Linked DNA regions of Homo sapiens. The protein of the gene in region 4 purifies or fractionates together with the protein of the main gene of each other region. This does not show direct contact. Each region holds a gene or a part of one and is shown on either strand. Other genes may lie near its edges.

The links.
Region 1: the proteins of SERPINB5 (region 4) and PLS1 purify together in Homo sapiens (affinity purification with mass spectrometry; 3 studies listed by BioGRID and IntAct, with this or other methods). This does not show direct contact.
Region 2: the proteins of SERPINB5 (region 4) and HMGCS1 purify together in Homo sapiens (affinity purification with mass spectrometry; 3 studies listed by BioGRID and IntAct, with this or other methods). This does not show direct contact.
Region 3: the proteins of SERPINB5 (region 4) and EIF2A purify together in Homo sapiens (affinity purification with mass spectrometry; 3 studies listed by BioGRID and IntAct, with this or other methods). This does not show direct contact.
Region 5: the proteins of SERPINB5 (region 4) and NAA50 purify together in Homo sapiens (affinity purification with mass spectrometry; 3 studies listed by BioGRID and IntAct, with this or other methods). This does not show direct contact.
Region 6: the proteins of SERPINB5 (region 4) and ALDH2 purify together in Homo sapiens (affinity purification with mass spectrometry; 3 studies listed by BioGRID and IntAct, with this or other methods). This does not show direct contact.
Region 7: the proteins of SERPINB5 (region 4) and UBA6 purify together in Homo sapiens (affinity purification with mass spectrometry, with the first as the bait; one large-scale study listed by BioGRID). This does not show direct contact.

What each region holds. Positions count from the first base shown.
Region 1 is NC_000003.12:142,669,393-142,672,892, reverse strand, and holds part of PLS1 (plastin-1), read right to left. Parts: coding exon 3,340-3,500; intron 1,901-3,339; coding exon 1,771-1,900; intron 1-1,770. UniProt on the Homo sapiens protein: Actin-bundling protein. In the inner ear, it is required for stereocilia formation. Mediates liquid packing of actin filaments that is necessary for stereocilia to grow to their proper dimensions.
Region 2 is NC_000005.10:43,289,413-43,292,912, forward strand, and holds part of HMGCS1 (hydroxymethylglutaryl-CoA synthase, cytoplasmic), read right to left. Parts: coding exon 3,436-3,500; intron 3,226-3,435; coding exon 3,062-3,225; intron 1,809-3,061; coding exon 1,719-1,808; 3' UTR 1-1,718. UniProt on the Homo sapiens protein: Catalyzes the condensation of acetyl-CoA with acetoacetyl-CoA to form HMG-CoA, which is converted by HMG-CoA reductase (HMGCR) into mevalonate, a precursor for cholesterol synthesis.
Region 3 is NC_000003.12:150,567,287-150,570,786, reverse strand, and holds part of EIF2A (eukaryotic translation initiation factor 2A), read right to left. Parts: intron 3,095-3,500; coding exon 3,021-3,094; intron 2,886-3,020; coding exon 2,741-2,885; intron 2,612-2,740; coding exon 2,495-2,611; intron 1-2,494. UniProt on the Homo sapiens protein: Functions in the early steps of protein synthesis of a small number of specific mRNAs. Acts by directing the binding of methionyl-tRNAi to 40S ribosomal subunits.
Region 4 is NC_000018.10:63,503,272-63,505,585, reverse strand, and holds the end of SERPINB5 (serpin B5), read right to left. Parts: intron 2,257-2,314; coding exon 1,864-2,256; 3' UTR 501-1,863; downstream 1-500. UniProt on the Homo sapiens protein: Tumor suppressor. It blocks the growth, invasion, and metastatic properties of mammary tumors.
Region 5 is NC_000003.12:113,722,250-113,725,749, forward strand, and holds part of NAA50 (N-alpha-acetyltransferase 50), read right to left. Parts: intron 1,847-3,500; coding exon 1,710-1,846; intron 1,293-1,709; coding exon 1,173-1,292; intron 724-1,172; coding exon 657-723; intron 1-656. UniProt on the Homo sapiens protein: N-alpha-acetyltransferase that acetylates the N-terminus of proteins that retain their initiating methionine. Has a broad substrate specificity: able to acetylate the initiator methionine of most peptides, except for those with a proline in second position.
Region 6 is NC_000012.12:111,773,433-111,776,932, forward strand, and holds part of ALDH2 (aldehyde dehydrogenase, mitochondrial isoform 1 precursor), read left to right. Parts: intron 1-3,500. UniProt on the Homo sapiens protein: Required for clearance of cellular formaldehyde, a cytotoxic and carcinogenic metabolite that induces DNA damage.
Region 7 is NC_000004.12:67,694,656-67,698,155, forward strand, and holds part of UBA6 (ubiquitin-like modifier-activating enzyme 6), read right to left. Parts: intron 2,053-3,500; coding exon 1,990-2,052; intron 1-1,989. UniProt on the Homo sapiens protein: Activates ubiquitin by first adenylating its C-terminal glycine residue with ATP, and thereafter linking this residue to the side chain of a cysteine residue in E1, yielding a ubiquitin-E1 thioester and free AMP.

The DNA.
Region 1 (3,500 bases), on a different chromosome or scaffold from region 4:
TCTTTGGTGTAATGAAAGTGTTCTGAAATTAAATAGTGATGACAATTGCACAACTATGAATACACTAAAAACTACTGAACTGTATACTTTAAAAATGTATTCCATGGTATGTCAATTATATCTCAATAAAGCTGCTATTTTTTATAAAAGCCATTAAATATTCCATATATTTTTCTAGAGAATAGTTATATAGGTGTATTCATAGGTTAAAAGAAATCATCAAGCCATATACTTAAGAATAGTACACTTCAGCCTGGTGTGGTGGCTCATGCCTGTAATCCCAGCACTTTGGGAGGCCAAGGCGGGTGGATCATGAGGTCAGGAGATCGAGACCATCCTGGCTAACACGGTGAAACCCTGACTCTACTAAAAATACAAAAACATTAGCTGGGCGTGTTGGCGGGCACCTGTAGTCCCAGCTACTCAGGAGGCTGAGGCAAGAGAATGACGTGAACCTGGGAAGTGGAGCTTGCAGTGAGCCGAGATCGCACCACTGCACTCCAGCCTGGACGACAGAGCGAGACGCCATCTCAAAAAAAAAAAAAAAAAAAAAGTACACTTCATGCACTTTACTACAAGTATCTTATACCTCAAAAAATAAGTAAACAAAAATTTATGGTGACAAATATCAGAAAAGAGGTTACCTCTAGGGAAGAATAGTTACTATCAGGGGAATGAGGGAGTCTTCAGGTGATGAAAAGATTCCATGTCTTGTTCTGGTTGGCAGCTACATGAATGTATATACACATGGAAAAATTCATTGAGCCATATACTTAAGATTATAGCACTTTGCTGAATGTGTATTATACCTTAATAATTTTTTTTTGTCTTTAAAAAGAAGCCACTTCAGTAGAATTGACAGGCAGAAACTGGGTTAAGGGGTGAATACCTTTCAAAAAGTGAAGGTAACAGTTATGGACCTTTGCCTTTATGGCTGCTTCCCTAGTGGGAAAAAGTTAGGAAAAACATATAATAGATGAGAGAAATTTGAGTGTATCGCTAGAGGAAAATCCAATTAGGAAGGGACAGAATCAAGAGGATAATTAACAGATTCAGATCTGAAATGAAGAAAGAGGGGAAAAGGTTACAGGTAATTTTGTCAAAAGGCCAAAAAGCATAGTTCTAGTTATGTTCATATAAATAAAAAGAACTTGGCCAAAGGTTCTTAGACATCTTAGATAACTTAACACGGGGAAGACACCTCATCTTAAAAGTTGATATGCTTCTGCATTTCCCACTGGGCAATGGTCCAGTGGTTTAATCAGATCAAGCAAATCAGGTGCTATGCTCTCTAGTCACTTGGTTACTAGATAAAAGGTGAATCGGGTATCTCAGATCTCAGAAAATGGAAGAGAAAAATCCTTGTGATAGAAGCCTCTCCCCCATTCCTAGCTCAGGTCTAAAAGTAAAGCCACCTCATCAGTCAGGATGAAAAGCCATTGAAAAGCCACTTTTAAATACATCTAATGCTGGAGTATAAACAACTTCCACTTTGTTGTTTATAATCTTGTTTCTGTAGACTGAGCCTGATACACAGCAGGAACTCATTGATTTCAATGATTCTAGGATTTTTCATTTTGACATCTGTGAAACTGAGATGTATTTCAAATTCAATGGCATGTTATACTGTGGTCTGCAGTATTTTTTTCTCCTCAGTGGCACATAAAATAACGGTATGAATCACAATGAGTGGCATCTTAGAACTGATTAAATATGTCACTTAATCAATGAATCAGTGACTAAAAGATCAAATTTGGAGAAGTCAGTTACCTGAATAAGAATGCTGTGTGCCCTCACTGGAAATAGTTGAAGTTCCTCCAATAGCAGTAATCCCTTCCCTCTTGTTAATTATTTTTCGGAATGTTTTGCTGATATCTTTGCTTTTTAATTCTTGCATTAGCTGGAATGGAACATAAGTAAAATTGAGAATCAGATAATCAATAAAAACCTGACAAAATGGATATTTATTTACACTTCTTTATTTGAAATGACACCAAATTAAATACTAGTCAGTTGTACTTATTGCTTGTATACACAGATAACTTTCATCATTTTACCAATAACACAAAATAGACAAATACTTGAACCCCAAACGGTGGAATAAATTTTTTATAACTAAGCTTAAATTGAACACACTGAAATTATTCTTCTTGGCTTGCCATAATCTTTTGTACTGAAAACCTAAGAAATAACTAACTACATGCTAAAGATAGAAGAATGCCTTAATGAAGATATTTTCCTGCCTGAACATCTCAAATGCATTCATGATAAAATAAGTCAGCTCTTAGAGGAAATAACATAGGCTTACAGAAACTCCCTTTCCCAATCACTCTCTCACTGGACTCACCAGAGATTGGCAAGACTCAATTCAATCAGTTCTGCTTGCAGCAAAGTGATTGGGTTTTTTTTTAAATGCAAATCTGATCTTGTCACTTCACATTCTATTCTTCCCACTTCATTGTCTTCCTATTGCTTTTAGGATAAAAACAAAAATTCGACATGGCCCTGTGTGACCTGATTCTGAGTTACTTCTCCAGCTACATTCCTTACCCTTACCATCTCAGCTCCAGTCACACAAACCTTCTTTCAGTTGCTTGAGAATATTCACCATCTCTAAAGCCACAGGGACTCTACACATGCTGTCATGTCTACCTGCCTCCTACATTATTCATTTTCCCACAACCCACTTTTATCTGTTTAACATCTTTCTTCAGAACACATCACAGTCTTCACACTGTAGGGATACCTTCCCTGAGTCCCTGGGTTATCCAGCCTTGCCTCCAAATTCAATTCCTTCTACCACAAACTCTCACAGGACCTGTACCACTCTGTCATAGCAATTCTCCAATTATCTTTTATCAATTTGTGCAATGCAGTCTTCTCCACACATATAAACTCCATGAAGACAGGAATCACGTTTCTTTTTACTCATCACATTACTCACAGTGCCTAGCAAAATTTCTAGGAAGAGAAGAGCTAAAATACCTGCTTAATCAATAAAGAATGCAAAACCAGACAATTTATATTTCATAAATATTTATTCAATTATATTAATGGTCAATAAGCATTGAACTCACCTAGTTATTCTAGGGAATGAATTACTATTATCTAAACCTGATTTCCATTCCAACAATTTGAGAATAATTTTTTCCTTTGTTTTATGAATTAGTTGTGGAAATTATTTCGATAATAATAGTTATTGTCATCATCATCATCATCATTTTAAAGCAGTCCTTTTTCTGGTCTCTGAAGCTGGATTTAACCAAAGCTAGTGATGACATTACTACAATTCTGCTCTAAGCAAGATTATCAGTAGCCCGAAAGGATTAGATTACTTACTGACACAAACTCTTCAAAACTGATTTTGCCATCTTTGTTGCTGTCAGCAACTGATAGAATTTTCTCCACAATCTCGCGCACCTTGTAGCCAGGCAGAGGAAGGCTTGCTTCCTTAAACAGGTCTTGAAGTTCATAGTCACTGACATACCCACTATTGTCAA
Region 2 (3,500 bases), on a different chromosome or scaffold from region 4:
CTTTATTTCAAAGTTATTCACCTCACCGTTAATAAGGTGTATGATTAATGCTCTGTGCCAGTATTTGCAGGCCTGCCCATTGCCGGCAATGGACTTTGAGAAAACCCATTTCCTGGCACCCAAAAGTTAAATTACTCTTTTCAAAACATACCGATCTCCCCAACACTTGCAAAAGTATTACATGCACCATTTTGCCACCATTCTTTAAATCAGAACTTACATTATTAATCTACATCAGTGAATGTTAAATGAAGTCATTTTAACAAATTATGACTGTACAAATCAAAATACTACTAGTTAATATTAGACAAGAGTATCTTACAAACACTACTATTACATATTACCTTGCAATCTGAAACATTATATTTCATATTTGTGTATATTTATTTTAGATAACTGAAACTTCACAGAATTTAACAGCAAATAAAGTTTAAAAAATTTAGTTCTGTACATTAGTTCCAACTATCCCTATTTTACAATCTATAAGGCTCATGTCATAGTTCAGCACCAAAAAGATCTACACAAAACTGTTTAACCAATCTTCTTATCTATCCTGTGTGATAGTTTTGTTTGTTGTTGTTTTTTAAGGTAAAAGTCCTACTTCAGACCTTGAAGTGGAATACTTCTAGTCAGACTAGGTAAAAACTTGGGTCATACCTTATTTTCATTGAACAGATACCAAAAAAAAAAAAAAAAGGAAAAGGAAAAGAGCTGTGTTACACCATGAATTTAGGTTGTCAGCCTCTATGTTGAATTTATAACACTGAAGCATCAGAAATAGCCTAATAATGCCCTGCCCCTATTCTTCCCTTCCATTTTAAATTTTTAAAAAAGTAACCAGAAAAATGTTTCATTTATTCTTTAAAATAAGGTGCAAAGAAGGACTGCAACAACAAACTCCCTCATCCACACCTCCAATAACATCTCACTGTTGTTCAGCATAATCTACCATGAACTGATTCAGGAGCACACCTAGAGCTATATTCACAGCTCCTGAATGTACCATGTTTTCTATACCAGAAGCCTCTTCAATGGCAGTGTTTCTCTGTTCAGAGGTCATTACAATAACTTTTGTCACTGCTGGCCTGGACTTAACATTCCAGATTCCAGAGCCAGTGTTTTATTGTCCCAGCTCTTTTCTTCCTCTTTAGGATTTATCAATTTTAGAAAAAGGGCATGTTTGTTTTGCTATTTTCAAAGGGTTTGTGCGTATCACATTTTACCACATTTTACCCCAATTTTACCACACTGGGGAATGTTGTCACATTCCCCAAGCTAGAAATGTTTTCCAAAAACCACAGGTACTTTCTGTAATCTTGTTGTTCAAAGTACAAAATTCTTACATGTTAAAAAATTTTTTAATTGGAGATTAGTACCTCTGCTTTCTTCTGACAGAAGTACACAATTCATTATACCATGTTTAAAAACCAAACATCATGCATACAAATGGCCAAAGAGGTATGAAGTTTTACAGAGCCCTTAACATCATTCGAGTACATTTGGCATTGGCCAGACCACAACAGGAAGCATGTCAGCAAATAGAGCAAAGAGACTTTCCCAAGTACACGATAGTCATCCAGGCTCCATGTCAGTCACATAAAAATTTACATAACATGTAATCCTTTAAAATTATCCCCAGATATCCCATTCCTCCAACTGTTCCCATACCCCCACCCCATGCCCACCCCACCCTGAAGTCTTGCACCTCACAGAGTATCTTAATGTTCCCCATTACTAATGACAGCTGCTTCAGGTTCTGCTGCTGTGGCAGGGAGTCTTGGTACTTTCTTGGCAGGGCTTGGAATATGCTAAAATGAAAGGAAAAAAGTTGATGGCTCTTATGATTCTTTCCCCCACAAGAATCATGGCACCAATTAAAGTTTCTGTAAAGAAACTTAATAAAGGACAACTCTGGAGAAGTTTATGCTAAATATATATTTTATATAACTTTTCATGAAGGGAACTCAATATCCATTTTTCACCTTATGGTGAATTTAGTATACAATTATCCATATGGGGGGGAGAGGAAGCCTGCCACAGAGACCCACCACGTAACAGTATTTTACTTGTTACGTCTTGTATTTGCAACTCAAACAGTGGCGGTTTGACTTGCTACCTAATTTGTATAATAGCAAAAAGCAAGACTATCCATTTACCAAACTTGTAGTAAGCAGATAAATAAGTAGTTTCAAGGTTATAAAGTCCTTAGTTTATAACCTGGCTTTAATACTTACTACCTATAATCCTGGGCAAGTAATGTAACTTCTTGGAGGCTCATCTCTAAAGGGAGGACAGTATCATTTATAAACTTCAAGGAGGTTGTTGTAAGGATTAAATAAGAAAACGTAAGTAAAGTGCCTAGCAGGTAACAGGAATTCAAATCATAGCTATGATTGTTACTTCTTGACAATTTGAGGACAGATTTTGACCATGATCTGGGATGAGATGTGAAAGGATCCTTGTCCCTCTACTCCATCTCTCACAAAGACACACACCACAAATGAACCTTCTCTCTATATCAGTCTTCCTTTAAATCCTGGTATCATTAATAAAACCTAGTATTTACTGTATATTCTTTTTTTTTTTTTTTTTTTTTTTTGAGATGGAATCTTGCTCTGTCGCCAGGCTGGAGTGCAGTGGTGTGATCTCAGCTTACTGCAACCTCTGACTCCCTGGTTCAAGCCATTCTCCTGACTCAGCCTCCTGAGTAGCTGGAATTACAGGCACGTGCCACCAAGCCCAACTAATTTTTGTATTTTTAGTAGAGACAGGGTTTCACCATGTTGGACAGGATGGTCTTGATCTCCTGACCTCGTGATCTGCCTGCCTCAGTCTCCCAAAGTGCTGGGATTACAGGCGTGAGCCACCGCACCCGGCCTTTACTGTATATTCTTAAAATATTAATAATTCAAATGCAAAGCACTTTATACAATTGGAAATAGTACAGCTAGAATCTACTCCCAGAGCCCTTACTCTTCTTTACTGACATTTATTTATGTTGCTAAATCCCAGTTAGGTCTCCTAAACCCTAAGATATGGAGATGGGAACTCTTTTATTTACCTCAGTTGCTATGTTTGAATGCACAAGTCCTACTCCTTCATCCAAAGTGTCATCATTTGGAGTGGGACGCCGAGCGTAAGTTCTTCTGTGCTTTTCATCCACCCTAACTAAGTACCACGTTCCTTCAAAGAGTGAATCTATTGAACCCTGGGGAATATAGTTGACTAAAGGAAAGGGAGAGAATATCTACAATTAGTTATGATATACAATTCATCTGGTAATAAAGCTAAAGATAAGTTTCATATATCCCAATAATTTTCACTGACATCAGATTAGTACTGAGTAAAGTCTTGATATCCTTATCGTATATGTAGCATCCTTAATGATATCAGCCCTCCAAATGGGTTAACTTAAAGAACATTTAATATTTTTACCCAAATGATGGGTGTCCTCTCTGAGCTTCATGTTTTCAGCGAAGACATCTGGTGCCACACCAGTT
Region 3 (3,500 bases), on a different chromosome or scaffold from region 4:
CCAGCCTCTGTCAGCAGTTTTTGATGATGCAGGCTTCCCCCTCACTATCCTTCAACTATACTGTGTAGTTTCATATTTTTATCTTCATCAGCCTACTAAGTGAAAATGTCTATCTTGTTTTCATTTGTATTTTTTAAATTATAAGTTAAGCATCTTTTACTGTAAGTAATTTTATTTCTTTTTCTATGGGCTGATTTTTTTTCTTCTTCTTTTTTTTTTTAAAGAGATGGTCTCATTTTGTCACCAAGACTGCAGTACAGCCGTAGGATCTTAGCTTGCTGCAGCCTCAAATTTCTCGGCTCATACAATCCTCCCACCTCAGCCTCCTAGATAGTTGGGATTATATGCATGAGCCACTGCACCGGCTCTGAGGACTAATTTTTACTATCCTATGCCTATTTTATTTTTCTCCAATTATTGGTCTTTTACTTGGCTTACTTGATATATTAAGAAAATTTGACCTTCCTCATACTTATCACTTGACTATTTAAAAAACATATTTTCCCCAACTTTTTGTTCATTTTGCTTAATTTATGGACTCTTTTCTTCTCTCATTGTAATAATCCATTATTCTTCTCTAGTCAAATTCATTATTTTTTCCCCTTAGTACTTCTATCTTGTTTAAAAAGTCTTTTTCTACTCTTAAGATTAGAAAAAAAATTCTCCCATATATTCTTCTAATTCCTCTGCAGTCTTATGTATAAGTTTTTGACCCAACCAGAATTTATTTTGTGAAGAAGATAATAACCTTTTGTTTCGAATGGCTAGCCAGTTATCCCAAACCACATATTAAATGATCAATATTTTCTCCTCCATTGATTCAAATGCTGACTTTATTATATATTAATGTCTACAAAAGTATGGATCTACTTCTGGACTCTGTTCTCTTCCACTGATTTATCAGTTTTACCAGTATATCCATATACCACAACCAAACTGTCTTAATTACAATTGGCTTACTTTTTTTTTTTTTGTGACAGAGTCTCACCCTGTCAGCGGGCTGGAGTGCGGTGGCACGATCTTGGCTCATTGCAACCTCCCACTCCTGGGTTCAAGCAATTCTCATGCCTCAGCCTCCCGAGTAGCTAGGATTACAGGCATGTACCACCACACCCAACTAATTTTTGTATTTTTAGTAAAGATGGGGTTTCACCATGTTAGCCAGGATGGTCTTGATCTCCTGACCTCATGATCTGCCCGCCTCAACCTCCCAAAGTGCTGGGTACATTTTAATATCTGGTAGTGTCAGAACTCCAGATAACTTCCCCTGCCCTGCTCTTCTTTTACACAAGTTTCCAAAATATTCTTGTGTGTTCATTTTTCAACACCAACCTTACAGCCAGTTTATTTAGTTAAAAAAAAAAAATCAGTTAGCATTTAAATTTAGTTTTAGACTGACAAGAGAGAAATGACATCTTTATAAAAATAATTCTTCTTAGTAAAGGTCATAGTTTGTCTCTCTGAAGAGTTTTAAAGTTTTCTTCTCATTGGCCCTATATATTTGTTCTTATTATTTTTGCTATATATGGAATCTTTCATTTTTTTAAAGTAGCTGTTATAGTGTGACTTCATCTACATGAGCAGAGATGATTTTGTTTTCTTTCAAAACTGTATATATTTTACTTCTGCTGATTATAGTGACTAGGTATTTCAGAATGTTATTAAAATAAAGTGAAAAGGGGAGCCATCCTTGTTTTTTCTCTGACTTCAATGGAAATAGTTTTTTTAAAACATAGATTACCCTACTTACACATGTTCAATTCAAAATGAGAAAATTAGGACGCTATCAGTATTTTAAAACTATTATTTTAAAGTTTTAGTTCATTAAAACAACAGATGAAGTGGTAACATTCTTGGATATTATTATTTTGAGACAGGGTCTCGCTCTTTCACCCAGGCTGAAGTACAGTGACATGATCATAGCTCACTGCAGCCTTGAACTTCTGGGCTCAAGTGATCCTCCTGCCTCAGTCTCCTGAGGAGCTGGGACTACAGGCATACGCCACCATGCCTGGCTAACTTTTTCTATTTTTTGTAGAGGTAGGGTCTCACTATGTTGATCAGGCTGGTCTTGAACTCCTGAGTTCAAATGATCCTCCCATCTCAGACTCCCAAAATGTGTTGGAATTACTGGCACGAGCCACCATGCCTGGCCTCTTGCATATTACTAACAATTCTAAAGACAGTATTAAGCAATTTGCCGTCATAATTAGCTAAGTAAGTTCCAAAAGAGCTACTACAATGGAATTACCTTACTCAGGAAGTTCACTTCTAAAACGATGGCGTAACTCAAATAACTAATTGTATTCTGCCAAAATAAGGTATGTTGGAGGATGATTTTTAAGTTTCTTAATTAAGAAAAATTTTATCTTAAAGGTTATTAAGGCATATGAATTCTATCTTTTGATCAAGAATTTAGATTATATCATCTTTATGGCATAGTATTTTTTACTATCATTGTTTCTAATCAAAGGAAGACTGCTGGAATACTCACGTAATTGCACTACAGCACTTTCTCCATTTGTTGCAATGTAGTGTAGAGTTTGTTCTCCATAGTAGGAAGCTCCTGTCTTGTCAACATCTGTGCTAGCTATTACCAACACAGCAGTAGCTATAACAGTAAAAACTTTAATTAGATTTAAAACACAAATGGGCATTGATTCTTCTGTTATACACATAGGAATATAGCCTAAATTAACAACTGATAAACAAAGGGAGGGATAAAATATACTTAACATACCTTTTTTATTCCACAGCATTGTAACTTTATCTGCCTTAAAGAAACTTTTATTAGCTAAAGCTGCATGAGGTCCAGCAAAGTTGGGGTACTGATATAATCTAACAAATGAAGGTGCACCTTTACTTCCTGGAACATAGACAGCCACCTAAGATACATAGACATAAATCATTACTTAATTTTTTGAAGAATAAAAACTGAGATGGACATGTTTTTACAATCACAAAAAACTAGGAAAAGGTTTAAACACATAATATTACACATAAACAAAAACAGCAATTACCTTGTATGGTTGGGGTCCAGGTGATAATACAAAATCATTAATTTTTTGCAAATGCAATTTATTTGCAATTGTGTCTAAAAAAAAGAGTAAATTAAATCAGATTGATGAGAGAACCTAAAAGGAACATGTTAAACTCTGAATACATTATCAAAGATCACTATAACTACACACCAATACTACTCACTGTAGTCTCCTCCTGGTGAGATACAGTAACACAGTGGAAAAAGCATGGGGTAGGAGCAAGACAAATGTAGGCTTCAATTTCTACTCAGTCATTTACTTGCAGTGTGAGCTTAGGCAAGTAATGGGATTATACCACCCAACTCTCAGTAATTGGTTTTAAGAGAAGAGTGCCAGGCACATGGTAGGTATTTGATAAATGTCAGTTATCCTCTCTTCAATCGCTGAAATAAAGTGGTCTTAGAGCCTATTAGAAGGAAAAGATCAACCTTGGCCTGCTACTGCAGAATGTGGATATGG
Region 4 (2,314 bases):
CTGAGGGCTAGGAAGAAAGGAAAACAAGGGAAAAGAGGAAGTAATTATTCTTATTTCTTTTTAGTCTGCCTCAATCTTCAAAAGAGCATTTTACCTACAGGGATGCTTTGGGGTTTTTTGGGGTTTGTTCTTTTTGTTTTGTTTTGTTTTTGTTGTTTTTATGTTTTGAGTTTTTGTTTTGTTTTTTTTTTTTGAGACGGAGTTTTGCTCTGTCGCCAGGCTAGAGTGCAGTGGCCTGATCTTGGCTCACTGCAACCTCCGCCTCCCAGGTTCAAGCGATTCTCCTGCCTCAGCCTCCTGAGTAGCTGGGTCTACAGGTGGGCGCCACCACGCCCAGCTAATTTTTGTATTTTTAGTAGAGACGGGGTTTCACTATGTTGGCCAGGATGGTCTCAATCTCTTGACCTTGTGATCTGCCTGCTTCAGGGATGCTTTTGTAAACGCACGGCTTGGTTCTATTTCAAAATAGTCTAACTTAATAGGAAAAAAAAAACAAGACATGTAGTTCAATAATATTTTATTGTCAATAGCATAGGAAAAATTCAATATTGAATCTCAGAACAAGAAGAACCTATTTACAATGCAGGTCAAGGAAGAGATGGGAGAAGGAATGTCACAAAATTTTTGGTAAATACATATTTTTTATAGAGAAGTAATCCATGAACCTGCAACACGGATAGCTTATCCAACCAACTTTACAAATTACTATTAATATAAGTTACATGCTTGCCATCTAAAGTAACTAAACCCATAGACTGAAAAACTATGTGTCAAGGTAACGTGAGCACTTTAATCACTTTACTTATATTTTCTAAAGGCAGTAGTTTCCTCTCCTTTTCCCGCTATCATATTAGATGAAGAGACAAGTTCCTTCAACACAAATTCTGATATCGGCTATTGTGAGAATCCCTGTGCAAGTCAGCTAGAAGCCCCTGCCACCAGTCTAGTGCCAACCAAATGACCAGATGGGACAGCTATCAAAAATGAAAGTGAATTTATATTAAGATCTGAACTTCCTCTTGGGGTCTTGCATTTCAGCTACTAGAGGTCTATAATTCCTTATCCAACATTCCACAATCTGAAAAGCTCTGCGAACGAAGTGTTTTTGTAAGTTGGTGGCATACGCATTTGGCAGCAAATTTTGACCCCTTATGGGCTACTTAGTCTTTATGTATCCATTTTGTCTGAATATTCTACATTTTGTTGCAGCATATTAAGGTGTTGATTTATAGGGTGCTGCCCCAGATCTGATCCATGAAGTTCTATAACATACAGTGTATGTAAAATATTATCTTTTGAAAATCCCCAAAATTCAGAATTTTAATAAACACCTGCCTGCCAGGGCTTAACATAAGGACTTCTGGACCTATAGTAGCCTGAGCATGTGCCCAAGTTTCACTGGAGCCAGGGCAGTTTCGTGGGTCCCATGCACTACACTTTCTTCAGTCTTTCAGGGAAGCGAGAATGTCTGGAACATTCTCTATCCCAAAGAAGGAAAGCATAGTGCTGGGAAGAAGAGCTTCCAAATCTTCCTTATAGGAATTTTCTTTGTGGAAGACTGTATTTCTGCCAACTACCCCGGACAATTTGACAAATAATGAATAAATATTTTTCCTCTAACGTGATTCCTTTTCATTAAAAGCGTATGTCATTGTCTTATGGGAAAAAAGGAAACAAAAGATAGAATTGGAAAAAAAAAAAAGGTCTATCTGTGTGAAGGCTACATATGACAAGTACTGGCGGCTTCCTGATCCAGCAACATTAGCAATTTATTGTATCTAGAAAATGAATCTCTGGATGCAGAGTTTACAGAAATCGGCATCCACAGAAAAGTCAGGGAGGACTTAACATGGGCTATGCCACTTAAGGAGAACAGAATTTGCCAAAGAAAATAATGTTTCGAGTTTTGTTGTGCCTGATGATGTAAATAAAGGGATGGTCAGCATTCAATTCATCCTTGTGCTGCAGGATCCGTGCTCCTGGCACCTCTATGGAATCCCCACCATCTTCAGTTATTTCTAAGCACACTTTGTGGATAACATTTGATAGGGCCACTCCCTTGGTCTCTGACATTCCAGAGAAATCAGATGTGTCTTCACTGAAGATATGTTTCAGCCCTAGATTTTCCAGACAAGCCTTGGGATCAATCATCTTTTCCACCTTAAATTTTGGAATGGAGAGTTTGACCTTGGCATTGGCCATGGTGCTGGGATTAGTCCACTGTGACAGTGACTCTGAGTTGAGTTGTTTTTCAATCTGAAGGACAAAAATGAAAAGAAATTATTTTTATTTATTTCCAACTGTAAAAGACCTG
Region 5 (3,500 bases), on a different chromosome or scaffold from region 4:
CACACAGAAAAAAAATGATGAAAAATAAAAAACTAGGGTCTCAAAGCTTGAAGATATATCTTCCTTCTGATTGATAAAATACATGGTATGTTTTAAAAATTAAAAACGCAAGCTTTCTCAATTACTCCCAAAATAACACTGTATAATTCAATCTCTCACATGGCCAAACTAAATTATGAACATCCATGACTGTGATCTTAGTCATAACTCTTTATCTACAGCCTCTTGAGATTCAAGTACAATCTCAGCTAGGTAATCTCTGATTTTGATTATTAAACTCTACTACAAATGATCTACTACAATGTTCAAAGCTATCAACATAGCCTTGAACAAAACACACAAGGTTTTGCATGAGAAAAGTAGTATTAATAGTCTTGAATTCTGAAGGCCTGAGTTTTAATCCTGATTTCATCCCTGTGACTTTGGTGCTCTCATCCTAATATAATAAAGCAATGTGTTCTATCTCAGGTTCCTAATCTACTATTATTAATAAAACAAAACTAAACAAAACTAACAACTACTCGAATACTTTGTAACAACTACTTCCACAGTGTTTCCAAAGGCACAATAAGTGACCAGATTTTAAAGTTTCTAGTAAAGATTTCTCCTGCCAATTAAACCCCTTTGATAAGAACATTAAATATTATTTTACTTACAGATAAATGTTGTCAAAAGTACCATCTTTTTCACAGATGTTTAAGACATGATTTAACATTTTAGTTCCTGTTAATAAAATAAATAACAAACACGTGACTTCATAAATCAACCTTTAAATTATGTATCTATCCACTTGCCATCTGAACTACTTATTGAGTCCTAAAAGAATTTATGAGGTATACACTAGATATCCTTATTTTCCAAAGTTGTGTTCTCTCTCTACAATAGCTACGTATGTTTAAAACTGTTAGCAGAAGACTAACCTTTTTAAACAAGCACTTCCGGGTAGAAGAAAAACAGAAAAAGCAGAAGGGGACGTAAACAGCAAATCTATGTAGGGCTTCCAATAGAATTATGTTAATAAACACTAGTTATTTTTCACCATATTTTACATAATTCAGTAACCCTTTCTCAGTATTCCTTAAAAAGACCCAAATTAACTTACTAGGTCAGACACATTAACAAATAATATGTTTATGCTTCTCTGAAGAAGTAAAAAAACCACAATTTTTTACCTATTCCTAGCCTTCGGTAAGGTGCCAGACATCCTAGTGTCATGATGTAAAGTCTCTTCTGATTCTGTGAATGATCCACCCTACAGCATACTGCACCTACAGCAATATCATTGAAATAGGCTGCCAAGGAAAACATAAAGATATAATGTTGAACAGACAGAATAACACATTTAATCTTTTTCCCTTTTAAAGGACTACACTGTTCCTATCAACATTAAATTTCATCAACTATTTCATGAATATCAATGATCTCAAAGCTCTTATGCCATCTTAGGAAGTTTAAGCCTCCTCTAGAGTATAGCTTAAAGTGAAAACACACAGGTATACACTAAGAACACTAAGCATTTCTTTTTAAAATTCAACTGTTTTATTCAACTGATTTCTCTGAGATTTTTCTCACAACCTAGACCACTCCCATTTCCTCACTTATAAAATAAACAAACTAAATTAGTTAACTTCTTCTGCTCTATAAAAAACTAGGGTTCAAGAACAAAAAGAAAGAAAAGAAGGGAGGACAAAAAAAAAACTATATTATACCAAGTTTTGCTAGCTCGCCAACCTCCAGCACATCCTTGTAGAACTTGTCATTGTAGCTGACTGGAAAGATGACCTGATTCAATCTTTTCAACTGTTTAATATTGTGTGGTGTCACATCTCCCAGCTCGATCCGGCTACTGGAACAAATCAAAATGTACTCAATAAAACATAATTAGCCCCATTTGTTAATATGAACATATGAAAGGGGTACCAAGTCTTTTTTACATGATTGATAAATCCAACTCTTTCAGAGTTGATTTATAAGCAAATTATCATTTATAAGCAAATTTTGACAGTCATTCAATACAAATTCTACTCATAGCTTTCATATAATTACATACATTCAGGGACAAATATGGTACACAACGACTACTACAAAGGCCAGAATAACATTCTGCAAGTGTCAAAATTTTCCTTGTAGTTCATAGTTCAGAAAAATTTAGATACACCTATTTCTGGTAAAATTACAGTTCCTTTGCCCAAGTATCTTATTACTTCTAGTAATTTATTCTAAGAAAACAATGGAGGTATGCAATACCATGCACATTCTATTCATGAAAACCGTGGTCTATGAACTACCTACATCAGAGTCACAGAGGTGATATGCAAAATTCACATTCCTGGATACACATACCCCATTTTCAGAACCAGAGTTGCTGGAAACGAAACAAAGGAATCCACCATCTTGAAAATCACCCCAGGATGAAAACTATCCATTAAGAAAGCAACAGGAGTGATATGGTTTGGCTGTGTCCCCATCCAAATTTCATCTTGTAGTTCCCATAATTCCCATGTTGTGAGAGGGACCCGGCGAATCATGGGGGCGGTTGCCCTCATGCTGTTCTCGTGATAGTGAGTTCTCACAAGATCTGATGGTTTTATAAGGAGGCTTTCCTTCACTTCGCTCTCATTTCTCCTTCCTGCCACCATGTGAAGAATGATGTGTTTGCTTCCCCTTCCACCATGTTTATAGGTTTCCTGAGACCTCCCTATCCCTGCGCAACTGTGAGTCAATTAAACCTCTTTCCTTTATAAATTACCCAGTCTCGGGTATGTCTTTATTAGCAGCATGAGAAAGGACTAATAAAAGGAGCATTCCTAAGAAACCACTTGTAATCAAAACAATTGGGTCCATGGAAAAGATTAAAGCGAAAAATTTTCAGTTCCAATTTCTAACAAAGTATCAAAGGTATTCTGCCTGCAGAGCTGTAAACAAAGAATTTTTAATAGCTGAAGTGAACTTCAATACTGTTAAAGGTGGATCAAATGTGATAAGGCAAACCTGACAGCATTCTACAATTTTTTTGCTCCATCCGTATTATTTGCCCAAAAAGATGTTGTAGCATATTGTGTTTTGTAGAGAAAAAGCACATTTCAACTATATTTAACAACGGACTTTTGTTAACATATACAAAAACATGCTTGAAAGGATTTTAATTTGTAGTAGAAATTGTAATTTTAAAAACTGTATTTTGAAATGTTAAAATTTAGATTAAAATGCAAAAAAACAAAAACAGAAACAAAAAAAAACAGCTGGGCATGAAGGCCTGTAATCCCAGCACTTTGGGAGACCGGGGTGAGAGGATCCTTTGAGCCCTGGAGTTCAAGACCAACCTGGGCATATAGCAAAACTTTGTAAGAAATTTTTTTAAAAAAACTTAACCAGGTGTGGTGGCGTGCACCTATGGTCCCAGCTACTTAGAAGGCTGAAGTGAGAGGACTGCTTGAGCCTGGAAGGTCGAGGCTGCAGTAAGCTATGATTGTGTACCATTGCATTCCAGCCTGGGTGAC
Region 6 (3,500 bases), on a different chromosome or scaffold from region 4:
GCTCCAGTAATCATGATTATTCATCACCTATTTTCCATCAGGCCCTCTACTGAGGACTTCTACCTGCATTTCACCTTTCATCCTACCCGCAACTCTATAAGCCTGGTAGTATTGCTGTCCCGTCTTGCGGGTGAGGAAACTGAGGCTCAGGGAGGTCAAGTTCACATTAAGTATAACTAAGGGCATGTGTGTGAAGGTTGGGCAGGGCAGAATTTGAAGCCCACTTTCAAACTTATAACTTAATGTGAACTTGACCTCCCTGAATAATGATCAGACCATAAGAATGTATTAATAAACATTTAAGGGACAATTGAATAGAATTTTAAAATCAGAGAGGAGGAGCCATGTTTGTATTGTTCACTTTTGCATTCCTGGCACCTAGCACCTTAGCATAGGATCACTGTTGGGTAAATATTTATTGAATAATGAATGGTTGCCATTTACGAAACCATGTTTACAGTTTTGTGCTCCAGAAGTGAGGTAAAGGGTTGCTTAATGAGAACCCAGTATTTCTACTCAAAAGGACCTTATTGCAAAGTATTTGGAAGTTTAAAAGAGTGGGAACATGGGGACGCATAGGGAGTGGTGAAACTGGCTCAGGGAAAGTCCATTGCAGCAAGATAGAGGTTGCCAAACCGTAAGCAGAACAAGTTGAAACCGCGCCTGTCTGGCAAACAGTCCAAAGTGGAATTGAAACTCCCATCTTTGAAGTGGTGAAAAAAGGCCCTGGGGTGGGGGAGTGGGGCAGAGGGCTGGCGTCTGTCTGCCTGGGTTAGTCTTGGTTCGGGAGTGTCCCGAGCAAGCCTGGGGAGATGACTGCCCCTCGCCTTGATCCCCAACTAACCTGGGGTTCTGGATTATGTGTGGGGAAGAGGGAATGTGTGTGGCATTCCGTGTTTGTCTTGAACTTTACTCCCTGGAATCTTGTAATACAAGCAATGGCATCTGCTTTCCATCGGACATAATCACCTAACCGCAGATTAGCAAGTGAAAGAGCACATGCCGTTGGGATCATCCCAGGCTGCAAAACCGCGCCATTAGCTTGCTCACTCTTTGGGAAAATACGGTGTTCCAGGGACGGGGATTTCCTAGGTAACATGTCCAGTTCTCTCATGCATCAAAGCTTGAACTGAAATCTTTCTAGAATGTATCCTGCCTCCTTAAATCAGAACTACTGAACACAGTTTAGCCTTTCATTGGAGACCCTGGGCAGATGATTACTGAACACAGTTTAGCCTTTCATTGGAGACCCTGGGCAGATGATAACCACCCATTGTCATGAGGTCTGGGGGTGGTGGCCAGAATTTCATTCTCTCCTGGCCTTGGTCTGACCTCCGCCCCCAAGGTCCAGTTGTCCTGCTCTGGGCACTGACCCTGCCCCAGCTCCTGAGCCCCTCGACCACCACAATCACCACTAAGTCTCTGCCTGGCATGGAGAACAAGATAGCCAAGGTGAAGAGGGATCCTGTTACCCTCTAACTCAGTAGTTCTAATTTCTACACAGTAATCTGCCCCATGTTTGGAAAAACGCATGTGAAAGGGTTCGCCACAGCTGTTGCTGGAATGGCGATCACTTGTCCTAAAAGTGCATTTGTAGGAAATCGTTAAATAAACCATGGCCTGACCGTGTTGAGGAACGCTATGTGGCTTAACATGAGGCAGAGCTGCCTGTGGAATAACGTCCAAGAGAAACTGAGAAAAGCGAGTTAGCAAACAGCAAGTCTATTACCCCCACTTAGAAAGGACACGGCAGTGTCCCGGTTCTCTGGTCTCCTGGGTCCTCCCAGCATCAAGTGCAGATCCTGGCACACAGCAGGTAGAATCGCGAGCCCCCCGCTCTCCCCTCACCTACACCCTGCAGCCACTCCTCCTGTCCCCAGGCTCTTCCTAGCAGTCACCCTTCAGACCCCTCAGCTGGCCAAGCCTCCTCCTGCTTCTCACTTGCTTGGTTTTGCTTGTTTCCTGCGCCCTCTCCTCACCAGGACTTCAGCTCCCACAAGCCAGGACTTGGCTCTTGGACTCCCTGTGCTGGAGTGGCCAGGGCTGTCAGTGAAAGCTTATGGAATGCGTGGGTGAATGAATCCAATTTTTACAAAACAAAGTGAGATGTATTTATTAAAATATGTAGGAATTAGAGTATTTTGATAGAAAATCTTTATGTTTTGCCTACAGTCTAGATTGAAAATGTCAACTCCAGACATCACTGTGCTTCTGGAAACTATAAAGAGGAAGTGGGAGCTAGGACATCCCCCCACCACGCCCCGCCCAAGAGCGTTTACGTGTGTTATGTAAGTCGAGCTTCGGGTTTCTGGTCAGGAGGTTATAAAGCATTTGGCCCAGAGTCTGGCCTGGTGTTTATTCAGGAAAACTGCTCCTCACTTGAAGCAGAACTTTGGCAGAAACTCAGTGTGAGAACAGTTCCTACCCAGCCCCCCACCGGGGAGGGAAGCCACTGAGTCTGGCTCTGGGAGAAGGGAAATGGGAAATGTAAACCGGAGGAGGTTTCCAGCGTCCTACAGCAGACCCAGGTTTATCTTATCAGTGGAGAAGGGAGGATGGGTTGTTGAAAATGCAGCCTGGTTCAACAGTGAAGGGTGATTGAGAACATTCTGGGCTTTGAAAGGCAAACATGCCAGGGAGTGGTCTTTCCAGGATCCTAATCTAAATCAGAGGGGCCAGCCCAGCGAGGAAGGGGTGGGGCTGGTGGGGTTTTAGCCAGACTGGCCCACCTCTCCCCTTCCTACTTCCTGATCTTTGCAAAATAAAGTTTAAAATCCAGGACAATTTAGTATGCTTTGGTGCAGGGAACAACATAAAGAGTATAGACCTGGCCCTCGCTCCTAAGAATCTTTAAGCTACGAGAGAGCTGCAGGATCTAGAACACTGCAGGACCCCCTGCGGGCAAGGTCCTAGCTTAGGAACTGTACACTCGTTCTTGCATTTAACCTTCACATCAGCCCCCAGAAGTACTCGATGAGGCATCTGGGAAGTGAAGGGATTTGCCCAGGGTCAAATCTGTGAGGGATGGAGTCAGAATTCAAACCCAGGCCGGGCATGGTGGCGCACAGCTGTAATCCCAGCACTTTAGGAGTCCAAGGCAGGAGGATCACTTGAGCACAGGAGTTTGGGACCAGCCTGGCCAACATGGTGAAAGCCCATCTCTACAAAAAATACAAAAAAAATCCCACCTTTATTTAAGAAAAAAAATTCAAACCCAGATCTGTTTGGCTTTGAGGTTGGTGCTTTTTACAACATTCAGAATAAAATTTTTTTTTTTTTTGAGACTCTGTTGCCCAGGCTGGAGTACAGTGGTGCAATCTTGGTTCACTGCAACCTCCATCTCCTAGGTTCAAGCAATTCTCCTGCCTCAGCCTGTCGAGTAGCTGGGATTACAGGCAAGTGACACCATGCCCAGCTAATTTTTGCATTTTTAGTAGAGACAGGGTTTCACCATGTTGTCCAGGCTGGTCTCGAACTCCTGACCTCAAATGATCCACCTG
Region 7 (3,500 bases), on a different chromosome or scaffold from region 4:
CAAAGTGCTGGGATTACAGGCATGAGCCACTGTGCCTGGCCACATCTTTGTATTTCTACTAAGAAAACCTATATGTAGTCAGTAACTCTTTTAGTATTCCCTAATAATTCACTCTTTTAGTACCCACATAAATTTCTGGCTTCCTGCCCTCACTATGACAAATTCTTAAGGAAGATATTAAAACTCAAATATGCACATTGGTAAACAACTAGATGTTTGCAATAAGACACGCATACCAAGTGCTAACAGCTACACCAAAAGATACTCTCCGTCAAACAAAAGAAAATGGCTTACCTCTAATAATAACAGCTAAACTGCTATATTCTATAACTCTCAGTAAAGCAAACTGCAGCCTACTTACGTAGCATTGTAAATGGAAAGTTTAGTCACTGGCCTACTGAAAATTATGTTTATCAGCATTATAGGGTTGGAGGGACATTAAAAAAGTTTCACAAGGATTAAACTAAAAAATGAATAAAATTAGTCAATACTATCTCAAAGAGGTGCCATTTGTTAAACCAAGAAAAACATGACCAAAAGGACATTAAGAATATAATTATAGATTAAGAATCCCAACGTAAGAGTCCCACTCTCCCTTTTTGCTTATTATCTTCAAGCCACACTGACCTGCTTGCTGTTTTGCAAGAAGGCAAGCTTGCTCTCATTTCAGAGATTTTACACTATTTCTTCTGCTTAGAATGTTCTTTCTTAAAAATCTTGAAATAGTTGACTTCTTATCACTTAAGCCTCTATTAAAATATTGTATTACAAATATCACACACATCATTTCTGATCACCCTATCAATAAAATGGCTACTCTTATCCTTAGGTCACTGCCTAACTCATTAACCTGTCATAGTTTCTTCAAATCACTTACCATTAACTGTTTGTCTGCCACTCCTATCAAAAAAATGTATGGTCTTAAAAACTCACTACTGTAATCCAAATACCTAAAACAGTACCAGGCATTTAATAATAATAGATAACCCTGTGCTACACACTGTTTTAAGTGCTTTAAATGTACTAATTCAGTTAACCCTTATACAACAACTTAAGGTGACTTCTAAACCATATTTTATAATCAAGAAATCATCTTTAAAATAATTTTCACATGAGCAAGATTGTTAGTCTTCTATCTCTTTTCCCAAGCATAGAGTACAAAACAGGATTTGGACTCAACATGCCAGATGGTATGTATTAGCTCCTAATAAAGTGCCCATTATTGACTCTGCATCTTTTTCTTTACTTTAAAAAGTATTCAAATTTCATGAAAAAGTATAGTTTAAAAAGTCTCATCAAATTTCATTCAAATCACAACTATTCAATCATACAATACTTTAATTACTAAAAAAGTATTCCAATTTCCTGAAAAAGCATAGTTTTAAAAGTCCCATCAAATTCCATTCAAATTACAACTCTTCAATCACACAGTATTTCTCCACTGTCTATAAATTACAGAACAGGAAATATTTTAATGAGATTACAATGAAGTAATATTCTCTAGATGTTATTGTATGACTAAAGTGAAATATTATTCTTCATCAACTCCTGCACTATCAAGAACTTAAATACGTATTATTGTCCAAAAATGAAAGGGTTATTTTGCAAGGGCAGCAAAATCCTTCTTAGTCCTATCACCTAAACCTAAAACAACTGAGATTTAAATATTATCCGAATGTAGATAAAAAAAATCACAGAAACCCTAATTTTAACTTGAGAGGAACTCTTTATATATATGTGTGTATATATACACACACATATACATATATACACACATATATATACACATATACACATATATATACATATACATATATACACATATATACACACACATATATATACACACATACATATATACATACACACACACACACACACACACACATATAATTCTGCATAGGCTGAATGGTATCTTCAAAGAGACTACTTGATTATTTGAGAACAATTAATGGGGAAAATAAGTTTCAGTTTCTATGAGATTCTTACCTATACAATGCATCATCGATTTCCACAGATGCTGTTGACATAATGGGCAAATTTTTATTTGTGCTGGAAAAAAAAACATGGTTATTAAATATTCACATTTTATAATGTAATATTTGATTACTTGTGTGATCAGATTCACCAGTTACTAAAGGTTTTCACAAACCAAACATATATTTTATTAACAACCACTTTACTTATATTTTTTAAATGGCCTGAAATTAAATTATCGGATTGCTTGTTCTATCCTGTGTAAATTTTAAGATTACAGAGCTCATCATCTTTTATTCTCAGATCTCAGGTGTTGTTTTATCACTGGTACATAAATACATATATATATATTTTGTTGTTGTTGTTGTTTGTTTGTTTGTTTTCTTTTTTGAGATGGGAGTCTCACTCTGTTACCGAGACTGGAGTGCAGAGGCACGATCTTGGCTTACTGCAACGTCCACCTCCTGGTTTCAGACGATTTTCATGCCTCAGCCTCCCAAGTGGCTGGGACTACAAGTGCACACCACCACATCCAATTAATTTTGTAATTTTAGTAGAGATGGGGTTTTACCATGTTGGCCAGGCTGGTCTTGAACTACTGACCTCAAGAGATCCACCCGCCTCAGCGTCCCAAAGTGCTAGGATTACAGGCGTGGGCCACTGTGCCCGCCTGTTTGGTACATATATTCTAATGGATCTGTATTTCAGCAATTCTGTACCATGAACTTTCTCTATATATACAGTCTTCCCAGATAAACTCATTCAATCCTATTGATGAATATATATTGATTATATTGAAACTTATTTCTCCACGTGTGATCTTTCCTCTGACCTCCAGATTGTATACAACTGCCAAAACAATAACTATTCTGATGTCTTAACTGGTATCACAAACATAACAAACTCCAAAGAGAATTCAATTACCCCTGCTTAATCTATTCTTCCTGTCTTTCCTAACTCATTTTCCGCTACCATCATTTACTGGGTTGGGCCTGAAATCTAGGGATCTTCTTGCTTAAATCATTCCCCAGTTTTCTCCATCTGAGACCTGTTAGCTCTACCTTCATAAGATATCTCAAACCTGATCATTTCTTACTATTTCAATCAGTACAATCTCAAGCCAAACCATCATCACATTTCACCTGGGCTATTTCAAAGACCTAGCTAGTCTCCTTATTTCCAGTATTGCCCTTCCCCTTTATTCTCCATAAAACAGTCTAAATATCTTAAAATGCAGTCAGAAATTATTCCCTGAATTTGGACTACCCTTCAGTGGATTTCCTTTACTCTTAAAACAAAATTCAAACACCTCACTATGCTTGAGAGGGCCAATGTGTCCTGTCTCCCAATTATCTCTCCAATTTCAACTCCCACCAGTCTCCGTTTTCGCTTACTATCTTCAAGCCACACTGACTTGTTTGCTGTTTCGCAAGAAGGCAAGCTTGCTCTCATTTCAGAGTTTTTACCTATTTCTTCTGCTTAGAATGTTCTTTCTTAAAATCTCGGAATAGCTGACTTCTTGT